Linked DNA regions of Homo sapiens: region 2 is linked to region 1. A link means that fine-mapping ties the variant in region 1 to the expression of a gene that starts in the linked region. Tissue or cell type: whole blood. Region 1 holds a variant in brackets; the other region holds the start of a gene. All regions are shown on one strand. Distances are between the middles of the regions.

Region 1 (5,000 bases):
AGTTTCTTCTAAGCATTTAAGTGATTACCTGGAATAAAATGACCTATCTACATAAAATTACACAACTAAATTCATGTTTTCAAAAATATTTAATGATACAAAAGTTCATCTGTTAACTGAAAAGAGCTGAACAGAAACCATACATATTTTGTAAAATACACACACACACAGCAGAACCCCAGCTGAGACACCTCACAGTGTCAGTGATTACTATGTGGTGGTGGGCTGGAGGATCATTTTCTACATGTGTAAGCTGCTTATAAAATTTTAAAAGCAACAAGTGGGGGTTTATGAAAAACTTTCAGGAATGGGTTATCTATGGTGGCCGTGGAGCTTGCTTCCTCAAGGGCTCTTTGACCACAGGAAGCTTGGTAGCAACAATTTTAAGGTGAACCTGCCAGAGGCAAGATGAGTAAGTAGCTGTGGATTCATTTAGTTTCTGCATCCCTCCAGCATGACCGTGAGTAGCACAGCCGTGGTGCCAGCCTCCTGAGTTTACCATCTCATCAGAGGCTAGCTACACACTAGGAGTTACTGACCGTTTCTACATGCCGGAGACTGTGCTACATCTCTTATAGACATGACTTCACTTACTCCTCACCCAGGAACACTGAAGGAAGGACAATTACCCAATCTTCAAAACATAAAACAGGCTCAGGCTAAGCATCTTCCTCCAAGTTACACCACTGACAAGTGGTAGAGCCAGGATTTGAACTCAGAGCTCTATAATCAAAGCCTGCTGTCTTATCCATGATCTTGCCATCCAAACCCAAAAACAAATGACCTAGGCCGGGCGCGGTGGCTCACGCCTGTAATCCCAGCACTTTGGGAGGCCAAGGTGGACGGATCACGAGGTCAGGAGCTCGAGACCAGCCTAGCCAACATAGTAAAACCCCATCTCTACTAAAAATACAAAAAAAATTAGCTAGTGTAGTGGCGGGCGCCTGTAATCCCGGATACTTTGAAAATTACATACAAAAATTACTAAGAGGCCCAGGCACAGTGTCTTATGCCTGTAATCCCAACACCTTGGGAGGCCAAGGCAGGCGGATCCCCTGAGGTTGGAAGTTCGAGACCAGCCTGACCAATAAAGTGAAACGCCATCTCTACTAAAAATACAAAAATTAGCTGGGTGTGGTGGCAGGCGCCTGTAATCCCAGCTACTTGGGAGGCTGAAGCAGGAGAATCGCTTGAACCCAGGAGGCAGAGGTTGCAGTGACCTGAGATCAGGCCACTGCACTCCAGCCTTGGCGACAGAGAGTCCGTCGCAAAAGAAAAAAACAAACAAACAAACAAAAACTAAGAGCTTTTGTAAAGAATAGCTTCAGGCCAGGCGCAGTGGCTCACGCCTGTAATCCCAGCACTTTCGGAGGCCAAGGCGGGCGGATCACGAGGTCAGGAGTTCGAGACCAGCCTGACCAACATGGTGAAACCCTGTCTCTACTAAAAATACAAAAATTAGCTGGGCGTGGTGGCATACGCCTGTAATCCCAGCTACTCAGGAGGCTGAGGCAGGAGAATCGCTTAAACCTGGGAGGCGGAAGTTGCAGTGAGCCGAGATCACTCCACTGCACCCCAGCCTGGGCGACAGAGCTAGACTCTGTCTCAAAAAAAAAAAAAAAAAAGAAATTGCTTCAGCACTTTGGGAGGCCGAGGCAAGCGGATCACAAGGTCAGGAGATCGAGACCAGCCTAGCCAATACGGTGAAACCCTATCTCTACTAAAAATATAAAAATTAGCCAGGCATGGTGGCGCTCACCTGTAATCCCAGCTACTTGGGAGGCTGGGGCAGAAGAATCACTTGAACCCGGGAGGGGAGAGGCTGTAGTGAGCCAAGGTCGTGCCACTGCACCCCAGCCTGGGTGACAGAGCGAGACTCTGTCTCAAAAAAAAAGAAAAAAAAAAAAGAATAGCTCCAATGGAGAACTCCTTACTACCTAATCTGACCCATAACAGACTGTGGAAATGATAAAAAGTCCAATCTTGTCCTTCTTCTAAATGCCCTTAAAGCCACTGCCACCAGCCGGGTGCG[G/GT]TGGCTCATGCCTGTAATCCCAACACTTTGGGAGGCCAAGGCAGGTGGATCACCTGAGGACAGGAGTTCAAAACCAGCCTGGCCAACATGGTGAAACCCCTTCTCTACTAAAAATAGAAAATCAGCCAGGCATGGTGGCGCATGCCTGTAATCCCAGCTACTCGGGAGGTTGAGGCAAGAGAATCACTTGAACCCGGGAGGCGGAGGTGGCAGTGAGCCCAGATTGCGCCACTGCACTCCAGCCTGGGCAACAAGAGCGAAACTCCATCTCAAAAAAAAAAAAAAAAAAAAAAAAGGATAAAAAGGCCACTGCCATCAATAATGGGATGAATTGTCATCCTGGAGAATGGTGCTGCTGCAGGTCTGACCGGCACAAGCTAGACCTGACAGAGGCCTTGGCTCCCTGTCTCCGAACCTCCTTCCCTAAACCCTGTACAGCTTCCTGGGCCAACTCTAGCCCCAGTACGGCCACCTGACCCACAGCTGATAGCTCCCTCTAGAGGCAACGATTTTTCTTTACTGATAGGGACTGAAGAAAAAGACTTGACCTTCATACAGGCCGCATTTAAAGCCTGAAGGCAAACCTAGATTGAATGCAAATGCAATTACAGGGCACCAGTTTCATTCTTCCAGAGCCTTGCTGCAAATGACCTCCAGTGAGTATAACTGTAAGATACACGAAAGTGGAGAAAGGCAAAACATTGATGGTGATGGATTGTCTTAAAATTCTTTACAAGGCCAGCACAGTAAAACATCATATGAATGAGCCAGATTTCAACATAAATAAGGGGCAACTAAGAAGCTAGACTCAATTGTCTCAAAGGTATCAAAACTAATCACCATAGCAAGGTTTCCTGTGCTTATTTTAAGTCCTTTGCTGTTGGGTCTAAGAGGTGCTGAGGGGCCACTGTAAAATACTAAAGACAATGATAACCAACAGTTGTATAAGTGTATATAAGTGTTAAAACCCACACATCCTAATAGTCTTACAATGTGATCATGCTGGGAAGATGGAATTCTGTCAAAGCGGTGGTCACAATACCAGTTTGAACCTCAGCCCCAGGAAGTATCCTGCTGTCTTAAATGCAGAAATGATGTGACCTGGTCCCATCACCCGTTTACACAAACCACTTCCAACCTAGAGGACAGAGTCGGAAGCACCAGGGAGAACGTGGAGAATGGCAGTCTGGTCACCAGCCGCCGGCACCCCCAGGAAAAAGCTCTAAATGGCAGGGTTGTTCATAGGTGCAAGTTCAGGTCCAGCCTCCCACAGGCAATAATGGAGCTTTCCCAAGAGCTGGTCTGCCAGTCCTTCTTCCTTCAAAACAGCCCAGTCTCCAGCTCTGCCCTGTGGTTGTCTCTGGCCTCAGATCAGAAGTCAATTTGGACAAATCTACTTTTATAAGAGCCCCCAGAAGAGGTTTTCCAGATTATTATTTTTTTTTTTTGAGATGGAGTCTTGCTCTTGTTGCCCAGGCTGGAGTGCAGTGGCGTGACCTCGGCTCACTGCAAGCTCCGCCTCCTGGGTTCATGCCATTCTCCTGCCTCAGCCTCCTGAGTAGCTGGGACTATAGGCGCCCACCACCACGCCCAGCTAGTTTTTTGTATTTTTAGTAGAGACGGAGTTTCACTGTGTTAGCCAGGATGGTCTCAATCTCCTGACCTCGTGAACCGCCTGCCTTGGCCTCCCAAAGTGCTGGAATTACAGGCGTGAGCCACTGCGCCTGGCCCCGAGGTTTTCCAGATTTGAAAGAAATTTCCTCAGCATAAAACCTCAGGATTAAAAAAAAGGAAGGGCTCTTGGGTCCAAATTTATATCTATCAAACCCGTTTAAATTTTTCTTTTCTTTTTTAAAAGATAAGGTCTTACTCTGTCGCTCAGGCTGGAGTAGTTGGTGTACTCCAGCCTGGAACTCCGAGGCTCAAGCAATCCTCCCGCCTCAGCCTCCCAAAGTGCTAGGATTACAGGTGTGCATGAGCCACCATGCCCAGCCCTATCTATTAAACCTTGATTGAATATAACAGACCAAGTACAACTGCACCAAATGGATGGGCTGTAACCATCCACACTGGCTCCAAGGAAGCAGACCGCTGGACCCCAGCTCTGCACATGGCTCAGGCAAGGCCCGTGGCGAGCCCTTGTATCCATTATGCTTGAGATCCTGCAGGTCGGCCTTCTTCCTTCCTTCTCGGTACATTGTAATGGCCCCAGTTTCCTTATTTTTATCCTGATTCTAATAACCAGGTCCCTGAAGAACTTTCTGAGGAATCTCTGTTTTAATGGCACACAAACTGTTCTCTGCTGTTTTACTCCCTCTGGACAGCAAGTATGAGTATCACACAGAAGACTAGAACAAATTCTAGCTCATGCAGCTTTAAAAGAGAAACTTAAGACTACTATATGACATTCACGAATTACACAAAAAACACTGTTGCTAATAAGGGCACCATTCATGGCCATGAAACTCCATCATGTCTCTTGTGGTCAGGCTTGAGACAAAGCTTTCTGGTAGGAAAGTTTCTTCCCTTATTAAAAACGCGAGCATCACTTCATTTTTCGACAGAACTTAGGTCTTCGGTATGGTTTCTCTTTATGTGCCTCCTCAGGTTCTCTTGCTCCAATTTTCTCTGATGCTCCAGGAAGTTTAAAATTGTAATCCGTTGTGACATAAGGTACTGTCCCTTCGATCCCACGCTGAAACGGAAACACAGAGAATGCATGGAAACACTCCAGGTCCAGCCCAGAGGGGTTTACAGTGCTCTCTCACACCTAGAAGGCAGTGTCATGGTGATGGTCTGGGTGGGGACTTCTCACTTTTAAGGCATTTGATCCCTTCCTTCAGAGCCCCCTTTAATCAACTGGCTCGGTAACAAACGTGCCAAGGCCTCCCTTCTGTCCCATTCCATCAACACAGCAAACAGCGTGAGGCAGAGTGGGGGTGCAGTGTGCGTCCCTTTCAAATGAGGG
Region 2 (5,510 bases), 58 kb before region 1:
CCCAGTTCTCCCACTCGCATTCCCAGCACACCACCTACTCTGCCTCCAGCCACAGACAGCGGCACAGCGCTCTGGACAGCTCCCCAGGGTGCTCCTGCAAGGGACGGGGGTGGCCTGAGGGATGAGGGGGTGCATGCCAGGAGGGGCTCCCTAAGACTGCCCAGCATCTGCTCCATCCTAGAGACCCTTCCCTCCCCAGGCCTCTCACTCTACCCAAGAATGTTCCTGTCATTGTGTCCCTGGTAACAACCACAGACACTATTCACTGAGCTTCTTCTAGACTACATGAAGAGTCACTAGAATGTCAACCCCAAAAGGACAGGGATTTTGCCTATTTTGTCCCCTGTTGCATCCCCAGCACCTAGAACAGTGTGTAGAACATAGCAGATATTCAATAAAGACTTGAATGGAGGCCGGGCGCGGTGGCTCATGCCTGTAATCCCAGCACTTTGGGAGGCCAAGGCGGGTGGATCACGAGGTCAGGTGATCAAGACCATCTTGGCTAACACGGTGAAACCCCGTCTCTACTAAAAATACAAAAAATTAGCCGGGGGTGGTGGTGGGCTCCTGTAGTCCCAGCTACTTGGGAGGCTGAGGCAGGAGAATCACTTGAACCCAGGCAGCAGAGGTTGTAGTGAGCCAAGATCGTGCCACTGCACTCCAGCCTGGGTGACAGAGCAAGTCTCCATCTCAAAAAAAAAAAAAAAAAAAAAAAAAAAAGACTTGAATAGCTACAGAAAGTCCCTTACCTCTGATCAAAGGCCTGTGAATTAGCTGCTAACATCCCATGTTGAGAAAGGGACACCACACATCAGAGACGCGAATTCTCTGCACTTGCCCAAGATCCCCTAGAGAACTAGCAGCACAGTCCTGACTCTCAGCCCTTTGTATTTATTTATTTAATAGATTTAATATTTAATATTTAATAGATTTAATATTTATTTATTTATTTAATAGGTCTCGCTCTGTTGCCCAGGCTGAAGTGCAGTGGCACGATCATAGCTCACTGCAGCCTCAACCTCCTTCAGCCCAAGTTTTAAAGCTATATCAATGTGACTCTCTGTGTAAGTGACAAATCATCTGTAATATCTGGCTAGGATCGCTGGGGGGAATGCTGGCTGAAAGTGAAGGCAAATACCCTTATGTATCTGGCTAAGGCGGATCCAGATTGCTCTTTTGCCATCTAAGTTTGCCTGAAGTGGGGCCCACCCATCACAGGGCCAAGGCTCCCTCCTCCCTATCCCCTCTTCCTATTCCTGAACCAGCAGCACCTGCCCCACCCCAGGCCCCTGCTCTGCTCCCAGCCGCCCTTCCCTCCATCCCACGACAGCTAGGAATTACGTGGGGCAGGACACGCAGCCATCGCCATGTTCATAGAAGCCAGGCAGGCAGGTCCCACAGTCAGTATCTCTGCGGGAACCTGCAATCCAGGAGAGGCATGCGTCACCATGGGACAGGAGTGGGTCAGGCAGGGAGAAGGGGGTCTGGGAGTAGAGAGCCCTGGGTGGGGGTACTCACAGAGTAGCCGTGTGTGGCGGTGCAGGGCCCCGCAGTCTAGGCATGGTTGGCAGTAGAAGGGTGAACTGCTGACACATTGGCTGACCTGGCACTCCACAAACCAGCCTGGCTTACAGCCACAGCGGGTGTCGGCCACTGCTGAACAGTTCTCCAGCGCCACCTGGGAGGCTGGTGGGGGTGCAGGGAGATGGGGAGTGGAGAGTTAGTCAGGGCCAAAGGCTCCCATGGAGAGGCAGAGGCATTATCCCAAGATAATGGAGACAGAAATAGGCGAAAGACAGACAGGTACAGGGCTACCCTAAAAAAGAGAGAAGCTCAGAGATTAAGGCCGACCAGAGGCCAAGGCACATGGAGAGATGGGAAGGTCACCAGGAAGAGAGAAGGGGCAAGGGCACCCTGAAGGAGGATCAGGGTGGAGGGTTCTGGCAAGGGTGGGTGCAGGACCCTCACACCCCAAGTTTGGGCCCGAGCCAGCCACTTCCTTCAGAAAGGCCTGTCCTTAGGAACTCCCTGCCAAGCACTGAGAAGCCCCTCACCCTGCTCATCACAGGCCTGGCAGCGGGCACATTCAGAATTATGGTGGTTCTCCCAGGCCAAGAAGGTGTCTTGGGGACACACAAGGCAGGTGGAGTTGCCGCAGGGCTCCGTGCAAGGGGCCTTCAGGTAGTGCCCTGTGGAACCAGGCAGGGGTCAGGCAGGCAGAGGGGCTGCCCAGCAACCCCCGACCTGCTTCCCACCCTGCCCTCCCTCCCTCTTTCTCTCCAGCTCCCTACTTCTCTGTCAGCCTACCCCTACCTCCCCTGCCAGCCTCCTCTTACCTCCCGGGCCTGCCCGCCACCTCTCCAGCCCTGCCTGCCCCATGCCTCTCCCACCCCTGTGGCCACTTACCCGCTGGGCAGCCTCTGCAACAAAACAGACCAATCTTCTTGTGGAAGTCACCGGCACAGTCACACCTGGGGCTACGAGTGCCGCCCTGGGCCCGGGCCCCCAGCAGCACCAGGAGGAGCGCCTGGGGGACAGGTGCTGCTGACTCTCAGCGCAGCTGCCCACGTGGGGCCTCTCCCTGCTGCGTCTCCTCCATTTCAGAGGCCCCAGCATTTGCCCACAGAGCAGCCCACTTCCCAGGCCCCGGGCAGAAGGGGTGCCCATGGGTGGAGAGGAAACTAACTTCCTTCCCCCCGCGCACACACCAGGCTTCGGAGGGGGCGCTTACCAGCCCCTCACAAGTTTCCCCTCCACCAGAGCAGGAATCCAGCAGCGCCCCCACCCCCACCCATGCTTTCTGTTGGGGGAGGGACACTGATAATGCTCTGCCTGGGGCCCCCAGACCCTCCTGGGAGGGGTTTCCTCTCAGTGGAAGGGCTACGCCCTGGAGGAGCCTTTAACGAGATCGGAAAGGGCGGCCAACCCAGCCCCCAGTGAGGCTTGGAGTGGAGACGCGCCCGGGGCCCCTTCCTTCACCGAGGCTCTTGGGACAGGGCTCAAAGCTGCCCCTAGCCTCCTGCGTCTCAACTCACCGCCGCCACCGCCGCGCAGCCCCGCGGCCGCTGCTCCATAGCCCTCCGACGGGCGCCCAGGGGCTTCCCGGCTCCGTGCTCTCTGCCCGTCGTGGTTCCGCCTTCAGCCCCGCGCCCGCAGGGCCCGCCCCGCGCCGTCGAGAAGGGCCCGCCTGGCGGGCGGGGGGAGGCGGGGCCGCCCGAGCCCAACCGAGTCCGACCAGGTGCCCCCTCTGCTCGGCCTAGACCTGAGCTCATTAGGCGGCAGCGGACAGGCCAAGTAGAACACGCGAAGCGCTGGGCTGCCTGCTGCGACCAGGGGCACAGGATAGAGCTGCATCTCGGTCCCCACCCCGACTCTCGCCCCAACCCTGAGAACCACTTCAAGGTAGAGCCAGGGCAAGTGACTTCTCTCTCGGCCTCCGCGTCCCCAGCCATGGAGGAGGTTGGGCCAAAAGTACCGCAAGGGGCCAAGCGCAGTAGCTCAGGCCTGTAATTCTAGCACTATGGGAGGCAGAGGCGGGCGGAACACTTGGGGTCAGGAGTTCGAGACCAGCCTGACCAATATGGTGAAATGCCGTCTCTACTTAAAATACAAAAACTAGCCCGGCGTGGTGGTGCACACCTGCAGTTCCAGCTACTAGAGTGGCTGGGGCAGGAGAATCGTTTGAACCCGGGAGGCAGAGGTTGCAGTGAGCCGACATCACACCACTGCACTCCAACCTAGGTGACAGAGTGAGACTCTGTATTAAAAAAAAAAAAAAAGTTCCTGAAGGGACCCCCATGGAGGACCCACCTTCCCAAGAGGGCTGGCCTGAGTGTGGGAACTGGGCAGATTCAGCCCTGAATCCCCGGGGGGCACCTGGGGAGAGGCTCTGATGGTGGCTGAAGGTGGGGAAGTCTGGGGGTGTTGGTCTGGTGGCACCCCACACCCCATTACTTCCCAGTGCTTCCCATGGCAAGCTCCATCCGTGGCCCATCCGTGGCAAGTGGAGGAGCACAGGAACACAAGGAGGCCGCCCTGAACTCAAGTGCCCCGAGTCACTGGGCCCCAAAGCAAAGGACTCTTCCCAGTGGAGTCTAGACAAGTCTTTATAAAAGAACCAAAAGCTCAATAAATACGTAACTTCACAGAACCCAGCCCAAGCCAGGGGTGGCCTGTGGGACTGGGAAGGTGGGGGCAGGGCAGGAGTGAATCCCACTGGAGGCCAGTGAGGGTAGAAGTAGGATGGGCAGCCTAGGAGCCCAGCCCTGAAGACTCGAGCTGAGCTGGTAACTTCGGGGAGTAGGTGACGAGGGGCTGCCTGGGCAGGTGGGGTGGTACTGTGGCCTGGGCCTCCTCCACTCCATCCAGTCCGGCAAAGCGCAAATCGGGCCCGGGCGTAGGCAGGGATCCTGCCCAGCATCCGGCTCATGCATACAGGAGGCAGTAGCTGAAGCAGGTGCCGGCACGCCCCAGGAGGCAGGCTGTCTGCTGTCTCTTGGTCAATGGCACTCTTGGGGGCCTCCCTCTGCTCAGACCTCCCTACAGGGTGGGGAGGGGACAGAGTCCTTCTTTGGCTGACGCCATTCAGAGTGGCTCTGGTCACCCTCTCTTCCCCACGGCACTCCTCAGGCCCCTTCACTGCTGCCCACCACAGCCCCCTGCGCCCAGACACTGGGCAGGGTTCAGGCTCCCTCCGCCATGACCCTCCCCAAATGCGATGCTCCCAGGCATGAGTGGGCCCCCATGCCAGTGCCCTGAGCCACCTGCCCTACCCCAGTCCAGGCCACTCACGAGGCAGTGAGCGTGGAGTTAAGCAGCAGGGTGGTCCTGATTCGGTAGAGCTGGGCCAGGGTCAGCTTCCTGTGCTGGGCAGAGACCCCTGGTGGGGGCTCAGGCTGGACCCTGGGAGAGGCCCCCGAGGGCAGGTCTCCACACCTCTTCCTGTGGGAGCCTGCAGGTTCCCCGGCCAGGCAGCCGACTAGCCCAGGACCGCTGCCAGGGCTAGGGGCCCCTCGGCAATCCCAGCTGGGCCCAGCTTCCTGAGGGGAGCCCTGAGTCCTAATACCTGGGGCTGGAACAGCCAGGCAGAGCTCTGACAGGCTGCGGCTGGGGGCAGAGGGTGTCCCATGGGTGCCAGCCCCTGCCAGCAGCTGGAGGAGGCTGGCCTCGGACTTAGACTTGAGCAGGTGGGGCGGGCAGCTCAACAGCTGGACAGGGGTGCGGCGGCGGAGACGGGGCGAGGGTGGAGGGGAAGGAACTCGTGGGGACTCTGGGGCCCGAGGCACTAGCTCTGCCATTGGGCCTGGGGCCACAAAGTCTTGTAAGGAGGTTGGGGAGAGGGTGCCGTAGGCAGAGTCCATGGAGCAGGAGCGGCCGTCCACCGGACCCAGGGGCAGCAGCTCACTGGTGGGCGTGGCAGATGAGGCAGTGGTGCTGAGAGAGGTCTCATCAGACTGGGAGCTGAAAGGACCGCTGTCGAACTCGGGGGAGGACAGCGTGTCCCCAGGCTC

What was found. PIP is the estimated chance that this variant, and not a neighbour inherited with it, causes the effect.
Region 2: TNFRSF25 starts here. The variant in region 1 is the best candidate, but not a certain one, in a credible set for the expression of TNFRSF25 in whole blood (INTERVAL, PIP 0.89).

Annotation. Positions count from the first base shown.
Region 1 is chr1:6,521,277-6,526,276 of GRCh38, forward strand. NOL9 (nucleolar protein 9) reads right to left here. Exons shown (of 12, transcript NM_024654.5): 12 at 71-4,727. The coding sequence ends at 4,578. Among named protein-coding and RNA genes, the nearest start is that of NOL9, 31 kb to the right of the region's middle. The variant G/GT (reference allele first, on the strand shown) is at 2,033.
Region 2 is chr1:6,463,034-6,468,543 of GRCh38, forward strand. TNFRSF25 (TNF receptor superfamily member 25) reads right to left here and starts at 3,140. Exons shown (of 10, transcript NM_003790.3): 1 at 3,036-3,140; 2 at 2,407-2,527; 3 at 2,055-2,189; 4 at 1,519-1,686; 5 at 1,342-1,420; 6 at 39-94. The coding sequence starts at 3,074. PLEKHG5 (pleckstrin homology and RhoGEF domain containing G5) reads right to left here. Exons shown (of 21, transcript NM_020631.6): 20 at 4,792-5,510; 21 at 4,089-4,539. The coding sequence ends at 4,530. RefSeq lists an enhancer at 2,961-3,909.